Linked DNA regions of Homo sapiens. The protein of the gene in region 1 interacts with the protein of each later gene in a pairwise test. Each region holds a gene or a part of one and is shown in the gene's direction. Other genes may lie near its edges. The genes, in order: CCR9, TRPM4, ADGRG1, TTYH1, SAP130, G6PC3 and OSTC.

The links.
Region 2: the proteins of CCR9 (region 1) and TRPM4 interact in a two-hybrid assay, tested with the Homo sapiens proteins (one large-scale study listed by BioGRID and IntAct).
Region 3: the proteins of CCR9 (region 1) and ADGRG1 interact in a two-hybrid assay, tested with the Homo sapiens proteins (one large-scale study listed by BioGRID and IntAct).
Region 4: the proteins of CCR9 (region 1) and TTYH1 interact in a two-hybrid assay, tested with the Homo sapiens proteins (one large-scale study listed by BioGRID and IntAct).
Region 5: the proteins of CCR9 (region 1) and SAP130 interact in a two-hybrid assay, tested with the Homo sapiens proteins (one large-scale study listed by BioGRID and IntAct).
Region 6: the proteins of CCR9 (region 1) and G6PC3 interact in a two-hybrid assay, tested with the Homo sapiens proteins (one large-scale study listed by BioGRID and IntAct).
Region 7: the proteins of CCR9 (region 1) and OSTC interact in a two-hybrid assay, tested with the Homo sapiens proteins (one large-scale study listed by BioGRID and IntAct).

Annotation. Positions count from the first base shown.
Region 1 is NC_000003.12:45,885,031-45,889,662, forward strand, and holds the start of CCR9 (C-C chemokine receptor type 9), read left to right. Parts: upstream 1-1,512; 5' UTR 1,513-1,625; intron 1,626-4,632.
Region 2 is NC_000019.10:49,167,792-49,171,812, forward strand, and holds part of TRPM4 (transient receptor potential cation channel subfamily M member 4), read left to right. Parts: coding exon of another isoform or gene 1-125; coding exon 126-306; intron 307-468; coding exon 469-632; intron 633-761; coding exon 762-945; intron 946-3,565; coding exon 3,566-3,627; intron 3,628-3,786; coding exon 3,787-3,978; intron 3,979-4,021. UniProt on the Homo sapiens protein: Calcium-activated selective cation channel that mediates membrane depolarization. While it is activated by increase in intracellular Ca(2+), it is impermeable to it.
Region 3 is NC_000016.10:57,627,139-57,631,752, forward strand, and holds the start of ADGRG1 (adhesion G-protein coupled receptor G1 isoform b precursor), read left to right. Parts: upstream 1-1,491; 5' UTR 1,492-1,664; exon of another isoform or gene 1,665-1,690; intron 1,691-4,614. UniProt on the Homo sapiens protein: Adhesion G-protein coupled receptor (aGPCR) for steroid hormone 17alpha-hydroxypregnenolone (17-OH), which is involved in cell adhesion and cell-cell interactions.
Region 4 is NC_000019.10:54,432,128-54,435,118, forward strand, and holds part of TTYH1 (protein tweety homolog 1), read left to right. Parts: intron 1-2,991. UniProt on the Homo sapiens protein: Calcium-independent, swelling-dependent volume-regulated anion channel (VRAC-swell) which plays a pivotal role in the process of regulatory volume decrease (RVD) in the brain through the efflux of anions like chloride and organic osmolytes like glutamate.
Region 5 is NC_000002.12:128,021,549-128,025,569, reverse strand, and holds part of SAP130 (histone deacetylase complex subunit SAP130), read left to right. Parts: intron 1-4,021. UniProt on the Homo sapiens protein: Acts as a transcriptional repressor. May function in the assembly and/or enzymatic activity of the mSin3A corepressor complex or in mediating interactions between the complex and other regulatory complexes.
Region 6 is NC_000017.11:44,073,444-44,077,074, forward strand, and holds the end of G6PC3 (glucose-6-phosphatase 3), read left to right. Parts: intron 1-716; coding exon 717-823; intron 824-1,236; coding exon 1,237-1,327; intron 1,328-1,525; coding exon 1,526-1,644; intron 1,645-1,866; coding exon 1,867-2,008; intron 2,009-2,236; coding exon 2,237-2,600; 3' UTR 2,601-2,901; downstream 2,902-3,631. UniProt on the Homo sapiens protein: Hydrolyzes glucose-6-phosphate to glucose in the endoplasmic reticulum. May form with the glucose-6-phosphate transporter (SLC37A4/G6PT) a ubiquitously expressed complex responsible for glucose production through glycogenolysis and gluconeogenesis.
Region 7 is NC_000004.12:108,657,010-108,661,030, forward strand, and holds part of OSTC (oligosaccharyltransferase complex subunit OSTC), read left to right. Parts: intron 1-440; coding exon 441-638; intron 639-4,021. UniProt on the Homo sapiens protein: Subunit of STT3A-containing oligosaccharyl transferase (OST-A) complex that catalyzes the initial transfer of a defined glycan (Glc(3)Man(9)GlcNAc(2) in eukaryotes) from the lipid carrier dolichol-pyrophosphate to an asparagine residue within an Asn-X-Ser/Thr consensus motif in nascent polypeptide chains, the first step in protein N-glycosylation.

The DNA of each region.
Region 1 (4,632 bases):
GTTCTTACTGTGCATGCCCTCTACCTTTCAGATGACCTATTTGTTGGCCTTTTTCCATTTAGACAATAAACCCAAGTGCACCTTCTGCATCCCTTTGCTCTACGGGAACTGAGGGTGATGAAGGGGACATGCGCCTGGGAGTACCACGCCATGACAGAGCGGCATTGAGTCCTCGGGACAATCAATACACCAAGAGGTGGAAATTAACATCCACAAGAGTGTAGTCATGATTTTCCCCCAGAACAAATATATAAAAGGGATCTTTGTCATAACAATGACAGGAAATCATTAATCACATCAGGATTGAAGTCCCCACTGTAGCAGTGGATGGGAAGACTTCGTCTGTGATCTTCATTAAAAATGCAATATTTTGTATATTTAGCTTTTTTCAAAGTTTTACCAAAACACCTGTAATTAATACAATTTATTGTATTATCTTTGTTAATGTATCTGATGTGCAAAACCTTACTAGATTTGCCCCAATTTGAAGGTGTCTGTGGCTTTCCAGCACTCCATGTGTTCCTAGCTACATCTCACAGGCAGACTTTCTAAAGCAGTGCCTTTCAATAGCACTGTTGGCGACGATGGACAGGTTCTGTATCTGCATTGTCCATTGGGATAGCCACTAGCTGCATGTGGCTATTGAGCACTTGAAATGTACCTGGCATGACTGAGAAACTAGTTAACACTTAAAACATTTTTCTTTTTTGATACAGGGTCTCAGTCTGTTGCCCAGGGTGGAGTGCAGTGGTGCAATCTTGGCTCACTACAACCTCTGCCTCCTGATCCTTCCACCTCAGCTTCCCTGAGTATCTGGGACTACAGGCATGGGCCACCATGCCTGCCTAATTGTTTTTGTGTGTTTTGTAGAGATGAGGTTTCACCATGTTGTCCAGGCTGTTCTTGAACTCCTAGGCTCTGCCTAGTGATCTGCCCGCCTCAGTCTCTCAGAGTGCTGGGACTACAGAGGTGAGCCACTGCACTGGCCCTAGTTAGCATTTTAATTAATTTGAATTTAAATAGGCACATCTGCCTAGTAGCTACTGTGTTGGATAGCACAGCCCTCCGGGTTCTGGTACGTCTGTCAAGGCCAGAAAAGGTATGTTGCGATGGATAGTGCTACATCTGCCACTGGGTGGTAATCTGATACAGGCCTGCTCAGGTGACACCACCTAAAGAAATCTCATCAGTGTGCACCTCTGGCAAGCCTGACAAGGCTGACTTCTCTCGATGGGATCCTCCAATTTCCCCATTCCCTGTAAGCAGCTGTGCTGTCTAGGAAGAGAATTTGCTCTTAGATCATCAGTCTGTATGTGCGTCTTCAGATGAGACAGTTTCCCCTTATCCCAGCAGTTTTCAGCTTTTTGTTTCTGGTTGCAAATGATTGACTCCGCTGATTGCTGGAAGCTACACAGGTGACTCCCCACCCTCTTGGGCTACCCCACCAGTGACAACACAGGCAGGGGTGGCCTGGCTTCCTTTCTCGTGTTGTTATCGGGTAGCTGCCTGCTCAGAACCCACAAAGCCTGCCCCTCATCCCAGGCAGAGAGCAACCCAGCTCTTTCCCCAGACACTGAGAGCTGGTGGTGCCTGCTGTCCCAGGGAGAGTTGCATCGCCCTCCACAGTGAGTATTGCTCTTCTTCTTGTTGCCCCCAACCCAGTGTCATCTTGGCCCTCAGTTGTGTGCTGCTATGATGGCTTCTAAAACCTGGGCTTGCACTCATTTGTTCAGAGGTCATGGGCACCAGGCACTTTTCTAGAAACTTCCAGGAAGGTAAATGGGAATTGGTGATGCCCAACCCAGGTTTCTTGTAGGGCGAGTAATAAAACTCCCTCCCCCTTCACATACATGAAGCTTAGGCTTAAGGCAGTCTGTGATTTATACCTTAAAGGAAGGAGAAGCAGGTGCTGGGGGACAAGATGGTGGCCAGGGGTAAAGGACACACCCATGAGGTCCTTGAGTCTGAGACACTGCCCCATGGAAAGGATTCTTTGTAGCAGTGAAAAACTGGAAACAAGGAAACTATGCATCAGGAGGCGAATGGTTAAATGAATTGTGATGTATCTAGACAATGGAATACACAGCAGCCATCCAATTCTATGATACGGTTCTATGTTGAATTGGCATGGAAGGTGATCCATGAAAGATGGGCAATTAGAAAGCAAGATAGAAGATTATATGTGTAGTCTGATTTCCTTTCTATTAAGTGCGTGTGTGTCTGTGTGTGTGTGTGTGTGTGTGTGAGGTTGTGTTACAGAGAAAAAGTCAGAAAGGAAGTATCTCAGAAACTTAACAATGGCTAAACTAGGAAAGGGTGCTTCAGGAGTTTTTATTTTCTATATTATGTATGTTGGCATTTTGGGGATTTTTTGTGCATTGTAAAAATACTCCTTTATGATCAGAGTAAAGCAAAAAGTTATTTTAAATGACTCATCAGTGGATGCTGGTTTGCCTTTTCAAACACACCTACCCTCTTTAGTTCTGAATTAGCTGTTACTCCATAGACGGCTGGCAAGTCCATCCAGAGAGTGGTCACTGTGTGCTGAACCGGAAGGGCTGTGCAGCAGCCAGTCTGTGGGATCCCATCTCCTTACTCCCTTTCCTGAACGAGCAAAAGCTAATTTACTATTTCAGCATCTGGAATTTCGGAGTCCTTTTCTTCCAATATCTGCTTATCTGTTCTGAAGCCTCTTTGTGTAGGCCTCACTCACAGGCTTGTGTTGGGAGCCCCTGGGCCCTGTGCAGCCCCTGCTGGGCGGTTGGCAGGCATCTGATCCAGGCATGGTGAGTGGATGGATCTGATAGATGGCTCAGAGACCCTGCCTCGTGTAGGGAACAAAAAGCAGAGCTATGAAAAAATGTAAGAGATGATTCAAGCTCCGTGTAGCAAATTGTACAAAGTTCAAAGTAAGGACCTGCATTCCTGACTCATGTTAGTATCTGATTTGATGTTAGTGCTGTAAGCATCAGAGGCTATAAGTGTGGGGAGATGCTGTGTGCACAATAACCCCATGCTGATTTTCATGTTGGCTACGTAAGAATGTTAGAGAATACAAAAATAGTGATTGGATAATAATAGGTTCCAAGCTAACTTTTCTAATAGGCACTTTTCTCTTTTGGAGAATTAGCAGCTCTCTCCCTTCCTTTATCTCCCAGGTCCCTGCACATACCCCATGCTTTCTGACTTTCATGCCTTAGTGCATATGTTTTCCCACCCTGGAGCAATGTTCCCTCCCCTCGTTGCATGTCTCCATGCTCTTCGGCCTTCAAGGACCCGCAAAAATGTCACCTCTTCAATGAAGCCCTCCTGGATTCTCCCCAGAGCTAAAGACATGACCTCCTTCTTCCAATTCCTACCACAACTCATAGCACTTTCCCTTTGTTGTTATTTGCAGCCATGACTTACTCAGTGTATTTGAATGCAAGCTTCTTGAGGACATGGATCATGTCTTACACATTGTTTAAGCCAAATAAATGTATCAGGTACTCAAGGCACATTGAATAAGTGGGTTCGATGGATGGCCCATGGCACCTGCAACAAGGCCTCACTGAGCAGCAAGGGAGAGATTTGCCACAGTGCTGAGTCAACTGCCCATCCACTCCCGACAGACCGCTGAGATGGTCCTCACTCTCAGTATGTTTGGTCATATGTGGGATTTTCCCCCCTATATTTTTCCCGCTTTCTCACTGGCAAGACAAAAATGAAAGCAAGCACTGAGACTTAGTAGCTGGGAGAATAAAATATTTGAGAAGTATTCTGACAAAAATGAAAGAGAAATAGATGGCAAGGCTGTCTGTGGAGGTTCTAGATGTGGGCTCTAGGGAGGGGTATGTCCTGTTTTTACTCTTTGGCTCTCTCCAAATTTTCTATGAGCCAGAAGCAGATGCATATTTTATAAACTGTAATATATTACATTCTATTATACACCATAATATATTACATGATATATACTATTTGTTTATTTATTTTAGAGACAGGGTCTTGCTCTGTCACTCAGGCTGCAGTGCAGCAGTGCAATGTTAGCTCACTTCAGCCTTGAACTCCTGGGTTCAAGCGATTGTCCTGCGTCAGCCAGCTGAGTAGCTGGGACTACAGGGTAGGCAACCATGCCTGGCATATTTTTAAATTTTTTGTAGAGATGGGGTCTTGCTCTGTTGCCCAGGCTGATCTCAAATTCCTGGCCTCAAGTGATGCTCCCACCTCAGCCTCCCAAAGTGTTGGAATTACAGGCATGAGCCATCTTGCCTGGCTTGTGTTTATATATTACCTTTAAAAAAAAAAATAAAGAGAAACCTTTATAGAAAGCTAGTGTACAACTTAGTTGCATAAAGTAGCCTCGGTGAATGTAATTACTAGACTTGCTCTTTCTGCGGTAGCTGGAGCAGGCTACAAGTTCCTCCTCTAGATGAGTTTTGTAAACAGGTGTGCTGAACGTTAGAGCATTGGGCTTCTTCTTCTTTTTTTTTTAAATCTGACAAGTTATTTTTATGACAGCTCTTAAAATAAAATTTTACACACTTGGTAAGATATTTAAATAGTTTGCAAAATCTAAATGAAAACATGAAAGTTCATTTTCCACTGGTCACAGTGGTTCAGTCTCCTTCCAGAAAATGTTTCGGTGCTGGTGAG
Region 2 (4,021 bases), on another chromosome or scaffold:
CCCTCTCTCTCTGGGTCTCTGTCCCCGTCTCTCTGGGTCTCTGTCCCCGTCTCTCTGGGTCTCTGTCCCCGTCTCTCTGGGTCTCTGTCCCCCTCCCTGTGTGCCCCGCTCCCATGTGTCCACAGTTCCTCCGGCTCTCTGACCGAACGGATCCAGCTGCAGTTTATAGTCTGGTCACACGCACATGGGGCTTCCGTGCCCCGAACCTGGTGGTGTCAGTGCTGGGGGGATCGGGGGGCCCCGTCCTCCAGACCTGGCTGCAGGACCTGCTGCGTCGTGGGCTGGTGCGGGCTGCCCAGAGCACAGGTGACCGAGGGTGGGTGGGGGCTGTCTCCTGGGCCTCGGCCTGCCTGCCATCTCCCCCACGACTGTGGGTGGCCTCCCCCGCCGCCCAGTGTGTGTGTGTGTCTCTGTCTTATTCTTTGTTTCTCTCCCCCTGCCTCTGCATGTTCCTCGGCGTCTGTGTAGGAGCCTGGATTGTCACTGGGGGTCTGCACACGGGCATCGGCCGGCATGTTGGTGTGGCTGTACGGGACCATCAGATGGCCAGCACTGGGGGCACCAAGGTGGTGGCCATGGGTGTGGCCCCCTGGGGTGTGGTCCGGAATAGAGACACCCTCATCAACCCCAAGGTGTGACCCAGGGACTTGGAAAAGGGGGCTGGAGGCCTGGACTCCTGGGTCTGAGGGAGGAGGAGGGGCTCGTGTTTGTCCTTCTGGCCCCGATGAGGAGACGCCCTGGTCTGGCCATTTTTCCCCTAGGGCTCGTTCCCTGCGAGGTACCGGTGGCGCGGTGACCCGGAGGACGGGGTCCAGTTTCCCCTGGACTACAACTACTCGGCCTTCTTCCTGGTGGACGACGGCACACACGGCTGCCTGGGGGGCGAGAACCGCTTCCGCTTGCGCCTGGAGTCCTACATCTCACAGCAGAAGACGGGCGTGGGAGGTGAGTGGTCGAACCCATGACCCACAACCCACGACCCACAACCTGCAACCCCAGCGCTCAGGATCCCAGTAGTTTGGTCTGGTCGAGATTTGGGGAATTACCTATGGTTAAGTGTCTTTCCCCGTCATTATTCATGGTTTTAAAAACTTCTGTCTGAGAGTGAGTTAGCTCACATCAGTAATCCCAACACTTTGGGAGGCCGAGGTAGGAGGATTGCTTGAGGCCAGTAATTCAAGACCAGCCTGGGTAACAGAGCAAGACCTTGTCTCTACCAATAATAATAATAATAATAATAATAAAGAATAAAAAATAAATTAGCCAGGTGTGGTGTCGTGTGCCTGTAATCCCAGCTACTTGGGAGGCTAAGGTGAGAGAACTGCTTGAACCCGGGAGGTGGAGGTTGCAGTGAGCCGAGATCAAGCCACTGCACTCCAGCCTGGGCGACAAAGCAATACTCCATCTCAAACAAACAAACAGACTTTATTTTGAAATTTCTCATACATACAGAAAAATGCACGAAGGTGGACAGCTTGATGCATTTTTTTCTTTTTTTGAGACGGAGTTTTGCCCTGTTGCCCAGGCTGGAGTGCAGTGGCGCGATCTCGGCTCACTGCAGCCTCTGCCTCCTGGGTTCAAGCAATTCTCCTGCCTCAGCCTCCTGCCTCAGACTCCTGAGTAGCTGGGATTACAGGCACGTGCCATCACACCCGGCTAATTTTTGTATTTTTAGTAGACGGGGTTTCACCGTGTTAGCCAGGATGGTCTTGATCTCCTGACCTTGTGATCTGCCTGCTTTGGCCTCCCGAAGTGCTGGGATTACAGGTGTGAGCCACCGCGCCCGGCCTAATGTTTGTATTTTTAGTAGAGATGAGGTTTCACCTTGTTGGCTAGGCTGTTTTCGAACTTCTGACCTCAAGTGATTCGCCCACCTCAGCCTCCCAAAGTGCTAGGATTACAGACGTGAGCCACTGCACCTGGCTCCGGCTAATTTTTAAAGTTTTTTGTAGAGACAGGGTTTTGCCATGCAGCCCAGGTGGCCTCAAACTCGTGGTCGAAAGTGGTCCACCTGCCTCAGCCTCCCAAAGTGCTGGGATTACGGTCGTGAGCCACTGCGCCCAGCCAGCCAATATCTTATAATTTTATCAAAACATGAACAAGATACATTACTAGGTTTGAGGAAAGTTTTTGATTTTTGTGTATTTTTCTTGTATCAATCCTCTTACCAAATTTTCTTATTGATCTTTATTTTTATTTTTGGTGGGGTTTTCCAATTTTCTGGGAATACAAGCCATGTTTTCTTCAAATAGGTACTTTTGTCCCTTCCAGCTTTACAAAAAACCAAAAACCAAAAAATCAATTTTCACTTCAGTGATTTCATTTTTTTGCATTATTGAGTTAGCTCAAAACTCCAGGATGAATACAGTGTTAGTGGTAATGTGGTCTAGTTTCTAATTTATTTATTTATTTTTTTGAGAGGGAGTCCTGCTCTGTGCACAGGCTGGAGTGCAGTGGCGTGATCTCAGCTCACTGCAACTTCTGCCTCCTAGGTTCAAGCGTTTTTCCTGCCTCAGCCTCCCGAGTAGCTGGGACTATAGGCACGAGCCACCACTCCCAGCTAATTTTTGTATTTTTGGTAGAGACGGGGTTTCACCATGTTGGCCAGGCTGGTCTTGAACTCTTGACCTCAGGTGATCCACCCGCCTCGGCCTCCCAAAGTGCTGGGATTACAGGCATGAGCCACCGCACCTGGCCTAGTTTCTAATTTTAATGGAAGTAGAGTCGATATAGTGCTATCTTTATGGTGCAATTGGATTTTGGTAAATATCTATATTGTGGTTAGATAGCCCTTTCTATTCCCATTTCCTTTACTTTCTATTTGAACTTTCACTCCCTCTGGCTCCTGGATGGTTAATCAATGACAGGATTGACTCATACAAGAAACACCTGCCTCATTCAGGGACTCAGGAGTCTAGGTCCTCAGCCCCCTCCTCCCTGGGGAAGTTAAGCATTACTGTCTTCAAAATCTAGCTCCCTCCTGAAGTGTCCAAAGACATGACAATTCTGGCCAGGCGCGCTGGCTCACAGCTGTAATCCCAGCACTTTGGGAGGCCAAGGTGGGAGGATCCCTTGAGTCCAGGAATTCGAGACCAGCCTGGGCAAGATGGCAAGACCCCTGTCTCTACCAAAAATTAAAAAGTTAGCTGGGCACGGTGGTGTGTGCCTGTGGTCCCAGCTACTTAGAAGGCTAAAGTAGGAGGATCAAGATGTAGTGAGGTGTGATCATGCCCCTGCACTCTATCCTGGGCGATAGAGTGACACCCTGTTTCAGAAATTAGGCTGATGCGGTGGCTCATGCCTATAATCCCAGCACTTTGGGAGTCCAAGTTGGGAGGATTGCTTGAGGCCAGGAGTTCGAGACCACCCTGGCCAACATAGCAAGACCCCCATTTCTAAAATAAATACATAATTAAGTAAAAAAAGAAATGACAATTCCAATGAGCCTCTGAACAGAAGATTAGGACAAGGCTGATGTTTGCCGACTCCTGGGAAATGCGGTTTTCTCCTATCTCCAGCAAAGGCTGATGGGAGGTAATCAAGCCCCCTTCTCTTCTTGCCTCAGGGACTGGAATTGACATCCCTGTCCTGCTCCTCCTGATTGATGGTGATGAGAAGATGTTGACGGTATAGGGGCCCGGATGCCCGGATCTAAGGGGGAAGGAGGGTTGGGGGCCAGGACTCCTGGGTCCTGAGTCTTAGGGAGGGTCTGGGGGTCTGACTCCGGGTAGGGTGAATATCCTGCCTTTTCTGACGTGATGAATAAAGAATGCCTTTATCCTGTAGCGAATAGAGAACGCCACCCAGGCTCAGCTCCCATGTCTCCTCGTGGCTGGCTCAGGGGGAGCTGCGGACTGCCTGGCGGAGACCCTGGAAGACACTCTGGCCCCAGGGAGTGGGGGAGCCAGGCAAGGCGAAGCCCGAGATCGAATCAGGCGTTTCTTTCCCAAAGGGGACCTTGAGGTCCTGCAGGCCCAGGTATGACACTGGGGGCCCAACTCTGGATCCTGAGATGGGAGGG
Region 3 (4,614 bases), on another chromosome or scaffold:
CTTTCTGCAGCTTGATTTCAAGCAGGTAGGTGAGGAGTGCAGTTCACCTGCAGCAGCCCTGGCTCCTAGGCTGCCCGAGACGTTCCATTCATTCTTCCTCCACGTGGCATGGGGAAGCTTTTCCTGGCCCCCTTGTTTAGAAGGCAGATCTCTACCGGAGAGAAGGAATCTCAAGTTCCCCAAGCATCCACGTGTCCAGGCCCCAGGCTGAGGCCTGGGGTGCTGGATTGCTGAGTGGTTAGGAGACCCGCTATGGAGCCAGACGGCCTGTGCTCCCGCCATCCCAACTCGGGCACCTCCCTGCTGTGTGATCTTGGGCAGGTTAATTCTCATCTCTGAGCTACATGTATCTGCCTTAAGCTCCCTCTTCTTCATCACCACATTCACAGGGAGTATTTATTGAGGGCTTGGCAAGTACCAGGCACTGGTCTGAGTAGCAGGTTTGACTTCTCTCCACTGCCAGGGGCGCTCTGGAGCTGGAATGCAGACGGTGGTCAGCGAGTGTAATTACTGTTATTGTCACCACTCACCCTTCTGGCATTGTAAAAGCCTCCCAGCACATCTGACTGAGGAATCATCTATCCTCATTGCTCGGAGGAGGAGGGCAGACAGGAGCCTCTGCAGGGAGTGTGAGTTATCCAAAGCCTCCTGACTCGAGAAGGGCACTGAACCCCAGCAGCGGGAGGTGCTGCTGACAGAGGAATGACCAGAAGGGGGATGGGGCATGGTCCATTTCCACACTTCTCTGTCTGAGCTTTTGGGGCCACTGGGAATGGCTCTTCACCCAGGCCTCGGTTTCCCCTTTGGCTCAGCAGATGGATTAAAGGAGGCCGTTTCCAGAAGCCCCTGGGGTCTCAGAATCCAAAATGACTTGGGATGTTGAAACTGTGGGTGCTTGAGGAGCACTGAGAGGGGAGACGGGTCACCCCCCGGGGGGACGCAGGTCAGCCGGTCAGTCGTGCGTGGCCTGGCTGGCCTCCTGCCCGGCTGCCTGTCACCCGCTCCCTCCCGACTGCCTTCCGCTCTGCCGGTCAGCACTGGCTCCCGTCGGCTGCCAAGGAGGCTGGACTCTCCTTCAGGAAAGGGCAGTTGTCGCCCTGACCTGGGGGGTGGGCGGACAGCATCCAAGGGCCCTGTTGCCGTGGCAACCCCGGCCTCTCTGTGGGAACTTTGGGGAGACTGGCCCTGGGAGGCGACAGATGGAGGCTGAGGAAGCAGAGTGATCCCCGGCCCCTTCCTGTCCCTGAACACTGTCTGCCTGGATGAGGGGTGAGGCTGAGGTGCCCCCTTGCCCGGCGCTGAGTCATGGGCATCCCCCAGGATCACTGCCTCAGCGCTCTCAGCCCTGCCCCCTCCTGGTCTCCCTCTGAGAAATCCATGACTCACATATATCGTCCGTCATCCCCAGTCAAGCTCAGGGAGGAGGGAGGAGCCCAGCTGGGGCAGGAGAGGGGTGTCTCCCCACCAAACAAACCCGGTCCCTCCCTCTCCGCACTAGCTGTCTGCCCTGCCCTGCCGTAGGAGATGGGCTGGGAGCCTCCCACGCTCTCCAGCTCACTCGGCAGGCAGCGGGGACCAGGGCTGGCAGGTTAAGCCTCTGGGGGTGGATCCTGAAAGGTGGTCCAGCCGCCTGGCCCTGCGTGGGACCCTCCACCTGGCAGCAGGTACCCAAACAAGGGCTGGACAGCAGGTGGGAAGGGGAATAGTGTGAGTGTGAGAGTGTGAGTGTGTGAGCGTGAGTGTGTGAGAGTGTGAGTGTGTGAGTGTGAGTGTGTGAGAGTGAGTGTGAGTGTGAGTGTGAGCGTGAGAGTGTGAGAGTGTGTGAGTGTGAGTGTGTGAGAGTGAGTGAGAATGTGAGTGTGAGTGTGAGAGTGTGACTGAGCGTTTGAGTGTGAGAGTGTGAGTGAGTGTGTGTGAGTATGAGTGTGAGTGTGAGTGTGGGAGTGTATGTGAGTGTAAGTGTGGATGTGTGCATCCGTGCACGGGTGGCTGTTGGACAGTGGGTAGGGATGGTGGTGAAATGGGGAAATGGGGGGGTCTTGGTATCTTGGTGGGATCTAGTCCAGGTCAGCATGGCTGTGGGTGGGTCTCTAGAGTGGGGGCGGACCCACAAGGAGATGCCTGGGAGGGGACTGGGGCCCAAGGGGAGCGACACCTCCCGGGGCTCCCAGGCATTTTGTTGCTGGAGAAACTGAGGCTCAGAGTGGTACAGTCACTGGGCCCAGCAAGCTGGGGTCTGCTCTTTAGGCTGTGAGATCAGTGCTCCTACTACACAGATGGGAGAACCGAGGCTCTGGGAGGGCAGGTGGCTTGCCCAAGGTCACCTAGCACATCCAGGTATAGAAAGCCAGGGGCCAGGCTCAGGGAGGGGGTGGCACTTGAGGGAACTCCTGAGGACAGCTTTCCTGCAGCTGTCCCTGGGGCTGGGTCCGGGGTCCCCACTGAGCAAGGGACAGCCGTGCTCTTCATCACCAAGGCCAGCTTTGGGAGAAGGTGGCCCCGCAGGGTCTCTGAACGTGGGCCACGTGGGTGAGAGTCCTGGAACCGGTGACAGGCAGACGGGGAAGCGCAGGCTGCGGGCTGAACACCCTGCCCGTTGCCACCAGACCTCAGGGCTCCATCTGCCTGGCACTGATAGGACTTCCCACCCTGGTCCCCGCGGGGGCTGGGAGTGTGTAGGAAACCAATGATTCCTGTCCTCCCCCGTCCCCAACCCACCTCCCCTGCGTGGTAGAGTTGGGGTCTCCCTGTGCCCCACTGGGAGAGGTCTGATGTTCATTTTACTGCGTAGGGAGGAGGGGATGGGTCAAGGCAGGGGCCTCCCACCCCCACCAATGTGGAGCAGTTGTAGCCTGGGGTCCACGGGCTGTGTAGGAATAGCCTTTGTTGCTCCTTCAGTGGACCAAGAAAGTTATTTATAGAAGCATTTATTGAGCGCTTACTGTGCACTCTGTGCTCTGTCGGGAACATGGCCGTGGGTGAGGCAAATAAGGTATCTCAGAACTCGTGAGTGGCCCAGACCCAGAGCCAAGCCCCCTGCCCCTCCCAGAGGATAGCCCCGGGCAGCCTGTTGGCTCCTTGGGGTCAGAGACTGTGTGAGAAGGAGCATATCTGGGCATTAATAACCATGGGCTGCCAAGTTGGCTCCCCAGAGCCCAGGCAGGGGTCCTGTTGGGCTCTTTCCTGCCAATGTCCAGGTGTGGAATGAGCTCTTAGGGCCAGACCTGACCCCTTCTTTGCTGCAGGGACCCGAGATATGCACCCACCTTGGTCACAGCATCACTGTGGCCCCCTTGCCCTTCCTCTCCTCTCGCCTCAGGAGCTCAGCTGCTAAATGGGTGTGTAGGGGTGATCACAGCTGCCCTGGCTCCCGTAGGCCTGGGGCTTGGCTCCGAGAGTGTCGGGTGATGGAGAACGCCGCTCCAGGTGTGATCTGTGACGGACAGGCTGTGTCCCGGCCTGGGCCACTGGGCAAGGGCCAGTCAGCCTGGTGTGACACTTCCTTTTGTCAGGGATACAAACAAACAAACAACAGTTAGGAGGTGAGATGGAGGCGTGAGATAAGCTTGCTAACAGAGGGCCCAGAGAAGGGGAAGAGGACCAGGGAGCCTCTGCGGAAGGCACTTAGGCTGGGCTTGGGAGAAGGTGGGAGGGGAAGGGACTGATGTCTGTATGAGCACTGTAGGGGGAGTCCTAGTGGAGGAAACTACTTAGGAAAACATTTGGGGAACGATACAAGCTGGGGACCACGGGGAGGGTGATACCGGACCCCTGGCATGGGTCATTTCATGGGACTTGATGAGCCAGGCCAGCAGGTCTCAATCTGCTCTGTGGGGGGGAAGAGAGGCAGGAGGACTCGCCAGGCAGGTGCTGTGTGGGGCTGGGGGCCCAGGCTGCAAACCCAGCAGGACGGGGAGGGCCAGGATGGGTGTTCAGTGTGAGGTTGGCCAGGCAGTCCCAGTCTCTGGCTGCTGGGTTAAGGCTCAAGCTTGGGAGCAGCTTCACGTGTGAGGGAGACGAGGGGGAGGTGGCGCCCAGTCGAGGGGAAGGACAGGAGAGAGGTGGCAGAGCTGCAGCAGGGTTGGTGTAGGGGTTGGCCTCCTGGCAAGGCCCAGCATGACAAAGGCAGGTAAGAGGAGTGGGCAGGACAGCCATGGAGGGACCACTGCGGACCGTCCTCCAGCCGGACTGGGATGCGGGTTCCGCCATCCTGTGCAGAAGCTGTGTGCAGGTGGGGTCTGGGGGGCTGTGCCATTTCAGGGATGCAGGATGGGCTTCCATGTGGCAGGGCTCCCAGGGAGGCCATGGAGGAGGCCGTGGGGAAGTCGGGTGGAAGTAGGGAGGAGAGGGGAGTGTGACAACAGAGCCCCAAACCCCAGCACCACCTCCTCCTCCCAGACTGGAGCTTGATCAGGGCTCAGCCCCCGTCCCCATGCTGGGGGTGGCCCTGTGGACCCCGCCTTCTGACTCACAGCAGATGGGGACATCATGTGAGCAAACCCAGCAGTCAGGGGTGACCAGACACAGCAACTGGGCAGATGGCAAATGGGGGGCGGGGCGGGCTGGCACAAAGGGGTCTCTCAAACCGGGTGGGGCGGGGCTGTGGCACGGCCT
Region 4 (2,991 bases), on another chromosome or scaffold:
GGAGAATCGCTTGAATCCACGAGGCAGAGGTTGCAGTGAGCCAAGATTGTGCCACTGCACTCCAGCCTGGGCAACAAGAGCGAAACTCTGTCACAAACAAACAAACAAAACCAGTAAGAGCTGTTCTAAAACACACACCCGAGGATGCCTTTCCCCGGCCAGTCTTCCCATCAAAGACCTCACATGTGCATAGCTTCACCAAGTACCTGACCCTGTTGCATTTCACAGGTGGTAACTCATCGATGCCTCATAACAATGCTATGAAGAAGGAACTATGATTATCCCACCTAACAGGTTAGAAGATGAGGAGCAGAGTTGAGGGACCTTCCCAAGGTCACACGGCCAGCCAGCCCATGCACACTGAGGAGAGAGGGACCTTCCGGAGGGCCCCGCCCTCTGCCCCCCACAGCCAGGCAGTTGCCCAGTTTTGTCCTTTCTGCTTCTGGAATGTCTTCATCCATCTACTCTCAATGCCCAATGCCCCTGCCGCAGCTGAGGCCTCGTTCTCTCCCCTGCAGAAGGAAGCATGGCCCCCTCCCCATCCATCCCCCCATGGACCCTAGAATAGGGCTGCCAGATTCAGCAAACAGCAAACCACTCTGCTATAAGTACGCCCGGTGCAATGCTGGGGAGATACTTATACTAGAAAATTATGTATTGGGCATCCGATACTCAAATGTAACTGGAAGTCCTGAATTTGATCTGGCAACCCTACCCAAGAGGGATTTGTCTACGCCATCGCATGGATCTGAGCTTTCCCTGGTCTGGCTCAGACAGACCCCTTCTGTGGCTCCCACTGCCTCCCACCCTTCTGGAACTGGCATTCCAAAAAGGGAGTGGGGAGTAAGCACTGAAGCCATGCTCAGAATTGCTGACTATTGAGCTGAGAAAGGCTGGGCCCCCACCCAGCCCAGGGCTGCCCTGATCTTTTGCATAAGGATAAACTGGGGTTCAGGCGCTTTTCTGTGGCCTAGGCAGAAACTGGGCTGGAATACAGGCCCCCAGACTCCTTTGTGGAGGGAGGGAAGGGAAGGAAGAGGACAGATCACTCTACCCTTCCCTACCACTGCACCATGAGACCCTGGGTCTCCATCTCCCCTGTCAGTGTGCCAGGGTCCTCACAGATTAAAATCAAGAATAAGCGGCGGGGCCGGGCACTGTGGCTCACGCCTGTAATCCCAGCACTTTGGGAAACCAAGGTGGGCGGATCACCAGAGGTCAGGAGTTTGAGACCAGCCTGGCCAGCATGGCGAAATCCCATCTCTACTAAAAATACAAAAAAACTAGCCGGGCGTGGTGGCACACCCCTGTATTCCTAGCTACTCAGGAGGCTGAGGCACGAGAATTGCTTGAACCTGGGCAGTGGAGGTTGCAGTGAGCTGAGATCGAGCCACTGCACTCCAGCCGGGGTGACAGAGCGAGAATCCGTCTCAAAAAAAAAAAAAAAAATAGGAGGGGGCTAGGGATGGGTGCCTCGTGCCTATAAACCCAGCACTTTGGGAGGCCCAGTGGGGCAGATCAGAACTCCTTGAGCTCAGGAGTTCAAGACCAGCCTGGCCAACATGGTGAAACCCCATCTCTATTAAAAAAAAAAAAATCAACAATAAGGGACATCAGGGATGAGGATGAAGGAGGGAGGGCACTGGAGCCTAAGAGAATCAGCTCCAATATCGCTTCTGCCCCTTCCAGACAGTGTGACTCTGGGCAAGTAGCTTGCCTTCTCTGGGCTGCAACTTCTTTCCACCATTGCAAGAGGCGGCAGCGTGAGAGGGTCAGTGTCTGCCTGGCAGGGCTGTTGTGAGGATGAAGGACAGTGTGCATGTACCAATACTCTCAAAACAGAGCCTCCATTGCCCCGACAGGTCCGTACCCCAACCCTCACTGGCTTAGTAACAGACACCCCACCTCAACCAGGTGCTCCTGCCAGAAACTCAGGCTCTTAGCTCCCACAACCATTCTCAGAACAAGTTCTGTTGGCCCTTCCTCTGAAACCTATATGGACTCCCACCGCTGTTCCTACCACCATTGCTGTGCCCTGGTCCCCGCATCCTAGCCACCATGACCACAGGGGCCTCTTCCCTGTCCCCCCTCGCCTACCCCCGTCTGTCCTCCATGCAGCAGCCAGCCAGCCAGGTGATCCTTTTAAAACACAATCCGATCAAGTTCTTCCTCTGCTTAAAACGCTCAGTGATTCCCCTCAGACATGGATTAAAATCCCTGTTCCTCGCCCTGACCTACAAGGGCCTGGGTGGTCAGTCCTGGATCTGTCTGCCTCTGGCCTCAGCCCCTCCCAGCTTCCTCTGCACAGCCCTCTGCCTGGCTCCTTCCTGGAGGACCCATCCCTGCTAGTGGGGTTACCCGACCTACCCCTGCCCTGCACTGACCCCCGCCCTCCTACCTCGTTGCACACCAGCCTCTGAGATGACCTTCTCGGTCCTGTTTACCGAAGTTTCCTGGTACTGGGGGCAGCGCCTGGGGCAGAGCAGGCTCTGTCAACCCCCACTGAATACATACGCTGTGCAGGTGCTTAGCACTCGGTGAAGGCCGTTTCTGCTGATTTCTTGGGACGACAGTCATCAGAGCCAGCATTTGTTGGCATGTTGAGTGTGTATTGTGTGCGCGGTGTCATCTTGAGCCACTGGTTGGTTTTTCGACGTGCTGTTCCACGTGCTCTAGGCCAGTGATTCTGCCCCCAGGGACACCTGGCTGGGTGAGGAGTTCTGCCCCCAGGGACACCTGGCCGGGTGCCGAGTTGCTGTTGGTTGTCACACTGCAGGAGGGGGTGCTCCTGGCATCTGGTGGGTGGAGCTGAGTGGGGCTGCTCAGCACCCCACAACACACAGGGCAGCGCCGTCACCACAGAGAATGATCTGGCTCAAAATGTCAGCAGGGCCCAGGTTATGAAGCCCTCGCCCCTGGACCAAGGCGGAGCTGGCGGTGGCTGGCCTGTGGGCGCTTGGTGCAGGGGAGGATGCTCTTGCAGGAGGTGCC
Region 5 (4,021 bases), on another chromosome or scaffold:
AAAAGTCTGTATGTGCTTAGTACAGATGCAAGCAGGGTTTTTTTCCCCCCCTGAATATTTAACATCCAAAGTTGGTTGAATTCACATCAGGGAACCCATGGATACAGAGGGCTGATTGTATACACATAGATAAAACTTGGTTTTTAGTCTTATACCCTTTGAGTGGTAGAAATTAGTGGTTCTCAGTGACAGGTGTTTGGGGAGGTGATTTTTCCTCCAGGGGAGTACTTGGCAATATCTAAAGACAGTTTGGTTGTCACAACTAAAGAGTACTATTGGCATCTGATAGGTAGAGGCCAGGGATACTGCTTAACATCCTGCAAGGTAATGGGAAGCCCCCCACAACAGAGAAGTATCCAGTCCAGTCAGCAGTGCTGAAGTTGAGGAATTCCTTCAAATACTCTTTTTCTCTATGTATTAAGTAAATATATGACATTGCAAAGTGAAATAAATGCTTTTCTATTCCTTTTTCTTCACCACTGGATTCTGGTGTTCCTTATGGTAAATGATACCACTGTCTACTCATTGCTCAAACCAGTAGCTGAGGCTTTTTTTTTTTTTTTTTTGCGCAATAGGGTCTCACTCTGTCACTCAAGCGGCAGTACAGTGGCATAATCACAGCTCACTGCAGCCTCGATCTTTTGGGCTCCCCAGCTAATTTTATTTTATTTTTTATTTTTTTAATTTTTTTGAGACAGAGTGTCACTCTGTGGCCCAGGCTGGAGTGCAGTGGTGCGATCTCAGCTCACTGCAGTCTCTGCCTCCTGGGTTTAAGTGATTCTTGTGCCTCAGCCTCTGAGTAGCTGGGATTACAGGCATGCGCTACCATGCCTGGGTAATTTTTTTTTTTTTTTTCGCATTTTTAGTAGAGACAGGGTTTCACCATGTTGGCCAGGCTGATCTCGGACTCCGGACTCCAGACTTCAAGTGATCCACCCTCCTTGGCCTCCCAAAGTGCTGGGATTACAGGCATGAGCCACCACACCCAGCCACATGTTCAGCTAATTTTAAATTTTTTTGTAAAGAGGGGATCTCACAATGTTGCCGAAGCTGGTCTCAAACTCCTGGACTCAAGTAATCCTCCGTTCTCAGCCTCCCAAAGTGTTAGGATCACAGGTGTGAGTCACTGTGCTGAGCTGGAAGCATCTTTAATTGCTCTGCGTTTTCTTATGAGCTATGGCCCTTGTCTAATGTTCCAGCCTCATTTCTTACTATTTAGCCTTCCTCCTGCCAACCTAATTTTTTTTTTTTCCAATGGAGATGGAGTCTTGCTATGTTGACCAGGCTTGTCTCAAACTCCTGGCCTCAAGGAATCCTCCCGCCTAGGCCTCCCAAAATTCTGGGATTACAGGTGTGAGCCACTTGGGTGGCCGCCAACTTAGTTTTTGTTATAAATTTATTTTAGTTCTCTTTAGACTTGAAGTGACTTTAAGCTACTTATGACTCCTGCTCGATGGTATCTACTCATATTTCTAAATAAATGATTAAAAAATTCCCAATTTCACGACTTTGGGACTTTGCACATTCTTTTCCTTTTGCCATAGTCTTCCTTGTTTCTTTCCATATACTTACTTATTTGGCTAATTCCTTCTTTTTTCAAGTTTCAACTTAGATGTTATTTTCTCTAGAATATTCTAGAGAATATTATTATTCTCTAGAATAACAGAAGACTCTATCTTCCATAACAACTCAGGTAGAGAATCTAGAAATAGAACCAGATATATATAGCCAATTGATTTTTGATAAAAGTTCCTAAGTAATTCAATAGGGAAATGATAGTCTTCTTTTTTTCTGAGACGGAGTCTCACTCTGTCTCCCAGGCTGGAGTGCAGTAGCATGATCTCGGCTCACTGCAAGCTCTGCCTCCCAGGTTCACACCATTCTGCCTCAGCCTCCTGAGTAGCTGGGACTACAGGCGCCCACCACCGTGCCCGGCTAATTTTTTGTATTTTTTAGTAGAGACGGTGTTTCACTGTGTTAGCCAGGATAGTCTCGATCTCCTGACCTCTTGATCTGCCCGCCTCAGCCTCCCAAAGTGCTGAGATTACAGGCATGAGCCACTGCGCCTGATGGTCTTTTCAGTAAAATAGTGCTGGAAGATCATAACATCATTATGGGGGAATAAAGGCTGTGTGCAGTAGGCTCATGCCTGTTATCCCAGCACCATGGGAGGCCAAGGCAGGTGGATCGCTTTGAGCTCAGGAGTTTGAGATAAGCCTGGGCAACATGGCAAATCCCCGTTTCTACAGCAAATACAAAAATTAGCCGAGGCCAGGCTAATTGTACAGTGGCTCATGCCTGTAATCCTAGCATTTTGGAAGGCTGAGGTGGGCAGATCACCTGAGGCCAGGAGTTCGAGACCAGCTTGGCCAACATGGTGAAACCTGTCTCTACTAAAAATACAAAAATTAGCTGGGCGTGGTGGTGGGTGCCGGTAATCCCGGCTAATCGGGAGGCTGAGGCAGGACAGTCACTTGAACTTTGGGAGGCAGAGCTTGCAGTGAGCCAAGATAGCGCCACTGCACTTCAGCCTGGGCAACAAAGCAAGATTCCGTCTCAAAAAAAAAAAAAAATTAGCCAGGTGTGATGGCTCATGCCTATAGTCCCAGCTACTTGAGAGGCTGAGGTGGGAGGATCGCTTGAGCCTGGGAAGCGGAGGTTGCAGTGACCTGAGATCTTACCAATGCACCCCAGCCTGGGTGACGGAGTGAGATCTTGTCTCCAGGAAAAAAAAAAACAAGAACTTATAACTCAGTAGTAAAAAGACAAACAACCTGATTTTTTTTAAGACGGGAAAATATTTGAGTACAGAAGAGCTAGATAAGTGCCAAAGAAGCACATGAGAAGATGCTCACCATTATTAATCCTCAGGGCAGTGCACATTAAAACCACTGTGAGAAACTACTGCACATCCAGTAGAAAGACTGAAATTACAAAGACTGACAATACCAAGTGTTGGAATGGTTGTAGCGCAAATAGAACTCATACTTTATTGTTGGGAATGCAAAATGGCTAGCCACTTCAAGAAACAATTTGGCAATATCTTATAAAATTAAATATACACTTACCACACCACTGAGCAATCTCATTCCATAGGTATTTATCAAAGGTAAATGAAAATATATGTTTATACAAGGACTTATATTCACATGTTCGTAGAAACTGTATTCATAATAGCCAAAACAGGGTTCTCACCAAATGTCTATCAGATGGTGACAGGATAAGCAAATTGTTGTGTGTCCATCCGTGCAGTGGAATGCTACTTGGCAATAAAAAGGACCAGACTACCAGTATACACAACATTATGGATAACCCTCAGTAACATTACACTAAGGAGAGAATCCAGATACATAGGACTACAGATGGTATGATTGTGTTATGTGAAATTCCAGAAAAGACTATGCCATAGTGACAGAAAGCAGATCAGTGGTTTCTGGAGAATAGAGGTTGTGGGGAGGGAATTGACTGCAAAGGGGTGTGAATGAACTCACTGGAGTAACAGGAAATGATCTGTATCATGATTGTGTTATACCGCTGTATACTTTTGCGAACACTTATCTAATGTTACACAAAGAATTAGTGAATTTTATATGTAAATTGTACCTCAGTAAAGCTAATTGATTAAAATGGACAAAAGATAAACATGCACTTCACTAAAGAAGATATATATGAATGGGCTGGGATCACATAAAAAGATGTTCAACATTACTAGTCATCATGGAAATGCTAATTAAAACTACAGTGAGACACACACTACAACCCACTAGAATGGCTGTATATCAAGCAATGAGTAAGGAAGAGGAGCAGCTTGTATACTGCTAATGGGAACAGGCAATGCTACAATCACTTTGGAAATGACTTCGGCAAAGTTAAACATATACTTACCATTTGACCCAACCATTCTGCTCCTTGGTGTTGCTGAGGATATTTGTAAAAAAATTATTGAACTTTTCTTGTAAACCAGTGGTGGTATTCTATGTAATCTATTCCCCAATAAAGAGGTTTTATAGATCAAAATTTT
Region 6 (3,631 bases), on another chromosome or scaffold:
GTTTTATTTTTTATTTTATTCACTTTTTCTTTTTTTGAGACAGGATCTCACTCCATCACCAGGCTGGAGTACAATGGCACAATCACAGCTCACTGCAGCCTCAACCTCCTGGGCTCAAGTGATCCTTCCCACTTCAGCCTCTGGAGTAGCAGGGACTACAGGCACACCCCAAGATGCCTGGCTAATTTTTGTATTTTTTGTAGAGATGGGGTTTTGTCATGTTGCCCAGGCTATTCTCGAACTCCTGGGCTCAAGTGATCTGCCCGCCCAGCCTCCCAAGTAGCTGAGACTATAGGTGTGCACCACCACTTCCAGCTAATTTTTTGTTTTTGTTGAATCTGGGTCTTGCTATGTTGCCCAGGCTGGTCATGAACTCCTGGCTTCAAGTGATCCTCCAGCTAAGGCCTCCCAAAGTACTGGGATTACAGTCATGAGCCACTGTACCTGGCCCCAGACTAGTTTTTAAAAATAGTGTTTCCACAGGCTGAGGGTTAGGAAAAAAAAAAGAAAAGAAATAGTGTGCTTTCTTTCTCCTGTTCTAAGGTAGAAAACCATGGCAAGGTATCCATGGATACCTTGAGAGCAGTGGACAGAATCGTAGTCCCTTTTTGACTTCACCCCTCAGGCCCTCCAGAGTACTCTGTGTCCTGCCCGCCTTGTACCCCCCCTGGCTGTGTGTGCATGTGGAAAGTCATCTTGCATCTGTTCTCTTCCAGGTTTCTTTTTGGAGACAGGCCCTTTTGGTGGGTCCATGAGTCTGGTTACTACAGCCAGGCTCCAGCCCAGGTTCACCAGTTCCCCTCTTCTTGTGAGACTGGTCCAGGTGGGAAGCCTCAAACATTCTCCCTTTCCCAATGTGGTTAGGGTTCGGGTGAACATTTCAGAGTACTTTTCAGCCTGGGTGGCCCAACCAAAGGACCAGCCTCTCAATTACTGGCGCAGAGAACAAAAGAACCCCAGGGAGACCAAGCTGAGTTATGGGAGGAGGGCACTCATGCTATGTACCAGCTGCCCACCTTGTATAGAGGACAGCCAAGAGACACAGATCAGGACAGAAACCTGAGCACAGTGACCTCAAGTGGCAGTAAAAAGGCCTCAGAGCAGAGCGAGTTATGAATCAGTGCTGGGGAAAAGCTCTTCTCAGCCAGGAAAGGCAGCTGTATTATTGAGGCATCACCAGGGGCCCCGGGGTTCTGCCTCCATCTTCTCACCACGAGCTTCTGGATTTGCTGGCAGGCAGCCCTTCTGGACACTGCATGATCACAGGAGCAGCCCTCTGGCCCATAATGACGGCCCTGTCTTCGCAGGTGGCCACTCGGGCCCGCAGGTATACCCTTGGCATTGCCCACCATTGGGAGCAGGGGTGATGGCACCCTGTACCTAATAGACACAGCAGCATGGCAGCCTGGGAGCTGGAGTTTTGGGGACCCTAGGTTGTGTGGTTCAACCATGGAGTACCTGGGTGCTGCAGGAGGCCAAGCTGTGTATGGACACGCTCTGAGCTCCTTGCCTCTCTTCTTTCTAGCCGCTGGGTAAGGGTGATGCCTAGCCTGGCTTATTGCACCTTCCTTTTGGCGGTTGGCTTGTCGCGAATCTTCATCTTAGCACATTTCCCTCACCAGGTGCTGGCTGGCCTAATAACTGGTGAGCAACTGGGGCAACGGGGTGGACTGAGAGGATGCCTTTGGCAGTGGGAGGATCAGTCTAGGATCTTCCCATCGCTCCCAGCTTCTGTAGAGCCCACCCCAGAGGCCCCCCGTTATGTCTCAGTTTATTCTCTTGCCAAGCTGCACTGCAGCTGGGGGTCGGGGTGGGGAGGGTCATATCCCCAGACTCCTTGAAGCTGTTGTCACTCCACTCTCCTAGGCGCTGTCCTGGGCTGGCTGATGACTCCCCGAGTGCCTATGGAGCGGGAGCTAAGCTTCTATGGGTTGACTGCACTGGCCCTCATGCTAGGCACCAGCCTCATCTATTGGACCCTCTTTACACTGGGCCTGGATCTTTCTTGGTAAGTCTCGCTTTGAAGCCTGGGCAGGCTGGGCCCTGTCCTATCTCGCCTGCACCTAGCCTGGTGTGTCTCTGGTTCATTATAGCTAAAAAAGGACACATTACCTATTCACATAGACCCTCACAGGCACAAAACAGAACATGGGAGTGGGCCCCAAGGGCAGATGGCCAAGAGCCAGTGGCCTTCTATGTTCCAGCCTCTCCTGGCAAGAACTCTTCTTCCCCACAGGTCCATCAGCCTAGCCTTCAAGTGGTGTGAGCGGCCTGAGTGGATACACGTGGATAGCCGGCCCTTTGCCTCCCTGAGCCGTGACTCAGGGGCTGCCCTGGGCCTGGGCATTGCCTTGCACTCTCCCTGCTATGCCCAGGTGCGTCGGGCACAGCTGGGAAATGGCCAGAAGATAGCCTGCCTTGTGCTGGCCATGGGGCTGCTGGGCCCCCTGGACTGGCTGGGCCACCCCCCTCAGATCAGCCTCTTCTACATTTTCAATTTCCTCAAGTACACCCTCTGGCCATGCCTAGTCCTGGCCCTCGTGCCCTGGGCAGTGCACATGTTCAGTGCCCAGGAAGCACCGCCCATCCACTCTTCCTGACTTCTTGTGTGCCTCCCTTTCCTTTCCCTCCCACAAAGCCAACACTCTGTGACCACCACACTCCAGGAGGCAGCCCCATCCCCTTCCAGCCCCTAAGTAGGCCCTCCCCTCCCTAAATCTGCTTCCGCACCACCTGGTCTTAGCCCCAAAGATGGGCCTTCTCTCTCCCAGATAAGTTGGTCCTCCCTCTGCCTTTCCTCTCAAGCCCCCAAAGAGCAAAGGCAACAGCAAGACCAGCGGGTTCTTGCAACACTGTGAGGGGCAGCCAGGGCGGCCCCAATAAAGCCCTTGAATACTTTGAGATTCCTTTCTTGCCTATGCGCACATCTCCATGGGCCTTGCCTGTGTGTGCACAAGTGGAACCTTTGCCAGGCTGCTCCAGTAGTCTCTGTGCCATCTCCAGCCCTGTTTCCAGGGGCAGAGAGGCAGGAAAGGAGAGGGCTGTAAACTCAGGTGAGACCTCTCAGCCCTGGGTCCCCTGCCTCATCACTGCCTAGGCCACATGAGAGGTCCCATGAGATGCTGTGACTATATTCGGTATAACCCTGTCTTTTCACTTACAGGACAGATCTTGCGCCCCAACCTCCAGTTTCCTAAATCGGCTTCTAGTCCAGGGGCTGGAGAAAAGAGTAGTGTGTTTGGCTAGGAAGGAGGATGAGAACCTCTACTCCATTTGGGAGCCCAGAGAATAGAGACATTGGCCCCAGAAGGCACTGCCAGAAACAAGTTTATTTACACAAGGACACACAGTGTAACGGGTTACAAAATACTTAACTGAAATCCATATCCAGGGAGACAAAGCAAGGAGTGGGTTTACATGAGAACCAGACCAGCCACAGGGAGAGAGTGGGTAAGGGGCCGGGAGCCTGGGGCTCAGCACAGAGAGGCCTAGTACACTGAGCCTGGCCCCATCCCCATCCCCCAGGAGGATCTAAAACAAACACACAAGCACACTATGAACCGATGGTGCTGGGACTCCTGCCCCTCCCCTGGCTCCCTCAATCCTGCTCAGGCCCCCATAGGATAATAAA
Region 7 (4,021 bases), on another chromosome or scaffold:
TGAGCCGAGATCGTGCCACAGCACTCCAGCCTGGGCGACAGCAAGACTCAATCTCAAAAAAAAAAAAAAGCTAAGCTAAAGTTCTGGGTAAAGCGTTCGTATACATAAAATATGAGTATTTATTTTACATAAACAGTTGTGTTAGTTGAGGTTTTACGACATTTTTTGAATGTGAACTCCATGAAGACAAAGATTTTTGTCTGTTTTATTCATTGTTGTATATCCCCCAGAACCTAAAACAGTGCTTGCTACCTAATAGACTCAATAAATATCTGTTGAATGGACAGATGAATATCCAGAGGTATAGTAAAATAGTTGTAAGGCTAAGAATAAGAAATATAGCACAAAAATGTTTTGGCACAAAAACGGAAATAGGAATTTCAATTTAAGGGAAACATTTCTATTTGTTATCTTTCTATGGTCATTCTTTTCTTTTCCAGAGTAAATGGACAATATATTATGGAAGGACTTGCATCCAGCTTCCTATTTACAATGGGAGGTTTAGGTTTCATAATCCTGGACCGATCGAATGCACCAAATATCCCAAAACTCAATAGATTCCTTCTTCTGTTCATTGGATTCGTCTGTGTCCTATTGAGTTTTTTCATGGCTAGAGTATTCATGAGAATGAAACTGCCGTAAGTTATTTGTGTAATCAGCACCTTATGTTGCAAATTGGTAAAATGATTACCTGGAAAATGTAAAGTCATAGGACATTTAATTTAACTTTCATTTACATGGGTGAAAAATCCAGAAACCAAATATATTTGTAACTTGGTCAGGTTACAGCTATAGTTAATAAAAATTGAAACTAATAGATCTTCTTAGTTGTTATCCCCATGAATGTTCATGAGAGAAAATTTAGTTACTTTGTCCTGGCATCAATGACTGAAGATAGTCATTGTTTCTTTTTTTTTTTTTTTTTTTTTTTTTTTTTTGAGACGGAGTTTCGCTCTTGTTGCCCAGGCTGGAAATGCAATGGCACAATCTTGGCTCACTGCAACCTCTGCCTCCCGGGCTCAAGTGATGCTCCTGCCTCAGCCTTCTGAGTAGCCAGGATTACAGGCATGCACCACAGCACTCAGCTATTTTTTGTATTTTTAGTAGAGGTGGGGTTTCACAATGTTGACCAGGCTGATCTTGAACTCCTGACCTCAGGTGATCCTCCTGCCTCGGCCTTCCAAAGTGCTGGGATTATAGGCATGAGCTACGGCGCCCAGCTGTCACTGTTACTTTAAAATGCCTTTTGGCTAATCTGTAACACAGAATTCCAGTAGTATTAATGGTAGGGAATAGCTTCAGATCACTCACTGTTGCTGCTCTTTGAATATTGGTAGGAAGAAAACCCATTATGCCTTGTAAGGGAAAAGAGAGTTATTGCCCTTCAAAAAGATAGGAAAAGGATATTTATATATTTGTGTGTGTGTGTGTGTGTGTATGTGTGCGTGTTTAATGTGTATTTAAAGATTATTTTGATTCAGAAAACTTTTCAATATCTTTAGAGGAAAAATAAGATCGTTTATGGCATCTTTCATAATTCTGTTTAAGATTATTTACTTGAAATGTGAACAAATACAATCACATTTCCATATATTCTAATTTAATTCATGGATGCATTAGTAACTACAGTAACGACAGGAAATTTGGGCAAGCATACCACAAATATTAGCTCTTAGTATTTTATTTTTAGTATTTTATTTTTTAGGGACTGTGTTAAACATCAAGTGTCAACTATACTGATTTCTTAGTGTGTTTGAATTTTACAAATTCACTTGTTCTGTGACTTAACCTGTCCATTGTCTGTAACACACCTGGGGTAGAATGGGCAAAAGTACATGATGATCCCACAATCATCATGTTCCCATTTTAGTCCTGGCAGGATGGGAGGGAAAGCATGGAGTTCTTTGTCAGCTGAATATCTGTGTGGCCATATAGCTGCTCAGTTTCCTCTGGCAGCAGCTCTTTTTTTTTTTTTTTTTTTTTTTTTGAGATGGAGTCTCACATTATTGCCCAGGCTGGAGTGCAGTGGTGCAATCTCGGCTCACTGCAACCTCCGCCTCCCAGGTTCAAGAGATTTTCCTGCCTCAGCCTCCCAAGTAGCTGGGATTACAGGCGCCCGCCACCACACCCAGCTAATTTTTTTTGTATTTTTAGTAGAGACAAGTTTTCACTATGTTGGCCAGGCTGTTCTGGAACGCTTGACTTCATGATCGACCCGCCTCAGCCTCCCAAAGTGCTGGGATTATAGGTGTGAGCCACTGTGCCCGGCCAGCAGCTCTTATTTTCATTTGGGGAAGGCATTTCTGGCCATTGGCTAAGTTGTGTGAAGACTAAGGTACTCCAGCCTCTTATTGTTCCTTGTTTTTCTGCTCCTAGTGGAAGTAAGTCACCATAGCCTGGTAAGGTGTACTTGTATAGAAAAGACTGAAGTTTTCATTAGCAGAGCAAGAAAAGAGGAGACTCCCAGATAGAATAAAGAGGTTACTGAAAGGCTCATGCCTGTAATCCCAGCACTTTGGGAGGCTGAAGCGGGCGGATCACAAGGTCAGGAGATCAAAACCATCCTGGCTAACATGGTGAAACCCCATCTCTTACTAAAAATACAAAAAATGAGCCAGGCATGGTGTCGGGTGCCTGTAGTCCCAGCTACTCGGGAGGCTGAGGCAGGAGAATGGCGTGAACCCAGGAGGCAGAGCTTGCAGTGAGCCAAGATCGTGCCACTGCACTCCAGCCTGGGCGACAGAGTAAGACTCCATCTCAAAAAAAAGAAAAGAAAAGAAAAGAAAATTTACAACCAAAACAAAAGAAACCTTTGGAGGCATGTGTCAGAACAGAGAAAGTGTCCTGGTTTTGCTTATAGAATCAAATATGTTCTCATTCTACCTACTGTTTTCATTCTACATAGTGTTTTCCTTCTTTATAGTTTTACGTCCTCTTCCTAGGAATGAGTCTATTAAGAAAATAGGTGTTATCTTTTAGCTTTGGCATTTGACTTTCAGGATAATAGAGCTATCTGCTACTGACAGAAAAGCTTTGACAAGTGTTTAATACTCTGGATTACCTTCATCTTACTTTTGCAATCATTTATGTGAACATTTGTCTTCCTGTCCACATTCTATAGGCTAGTATGTAACACCGTTGACTAAATCCAAACTTTAGGCTAGGGAAAAAGGGTATACTTTCTGGGTTTCGGTTGTAGATTATGTTTAGATCTAATCAAAACAGGACAGTGGTCCAAACAGAAAATTGCTATTTTCTGTATCTTGTAAATCTAGGATTTGAGTTTTTAAGATGAATTTATGGTTCCCTTTCTGATATCATTTCTCATCTGCAGCTCCTAATGCCTGGTACCTTGGGTATGGAGTGAGGAGAGACAATGGACAGTTTTATATAAGAAATGGAAGTAATGATACTATCTTTCCTGGAATATTTGCAGGCCCCAGAGGAGATGATGAGCAAGGACTGTTGGCCTGTATTACACACAACAGGGTTGTAGTTACTATCCCAGCAAGGAAAGGGTGTATCTTTCTTCTTTCATGCAAATTATCTATGATGACCTAACAGTTTGATTATAGTGAGTGGACTAACCACAACAATAAAAAAGATGTCAAAAAAACACCAATAGCCACTGGTTTTTCCAAATCAACTATGTTTCTAGCATCTGAGATAAAGGATGGCTGTATCATAAGATGCACCATGATAACCTCCAGGGTGGAATTCTTTTTTACAAAGATGTTACCTTTAGCAAGAGATGCCTTTGAAAAGGAGAAAACAGTAGCACTGAAACAGTATTACTGGTTCTGTTTTCTGATTTATGCTTTTTTGAAAGACCTGATGTTTCCCCTATTGATATAATTTTACTAATTAAAACATGTTTTATTTGATGTCTTGAGTTTTGAAGAAACGTCGAAAATGAATGACTGTTGGCTGGGCACAGTGGCTCAGGCCTGTAATCCCAGCATTTTGGGAGGCCGAGGTGTGCAGATCACTTGAGGTCAGGAGTTCAAGACCAGCCTGGTCA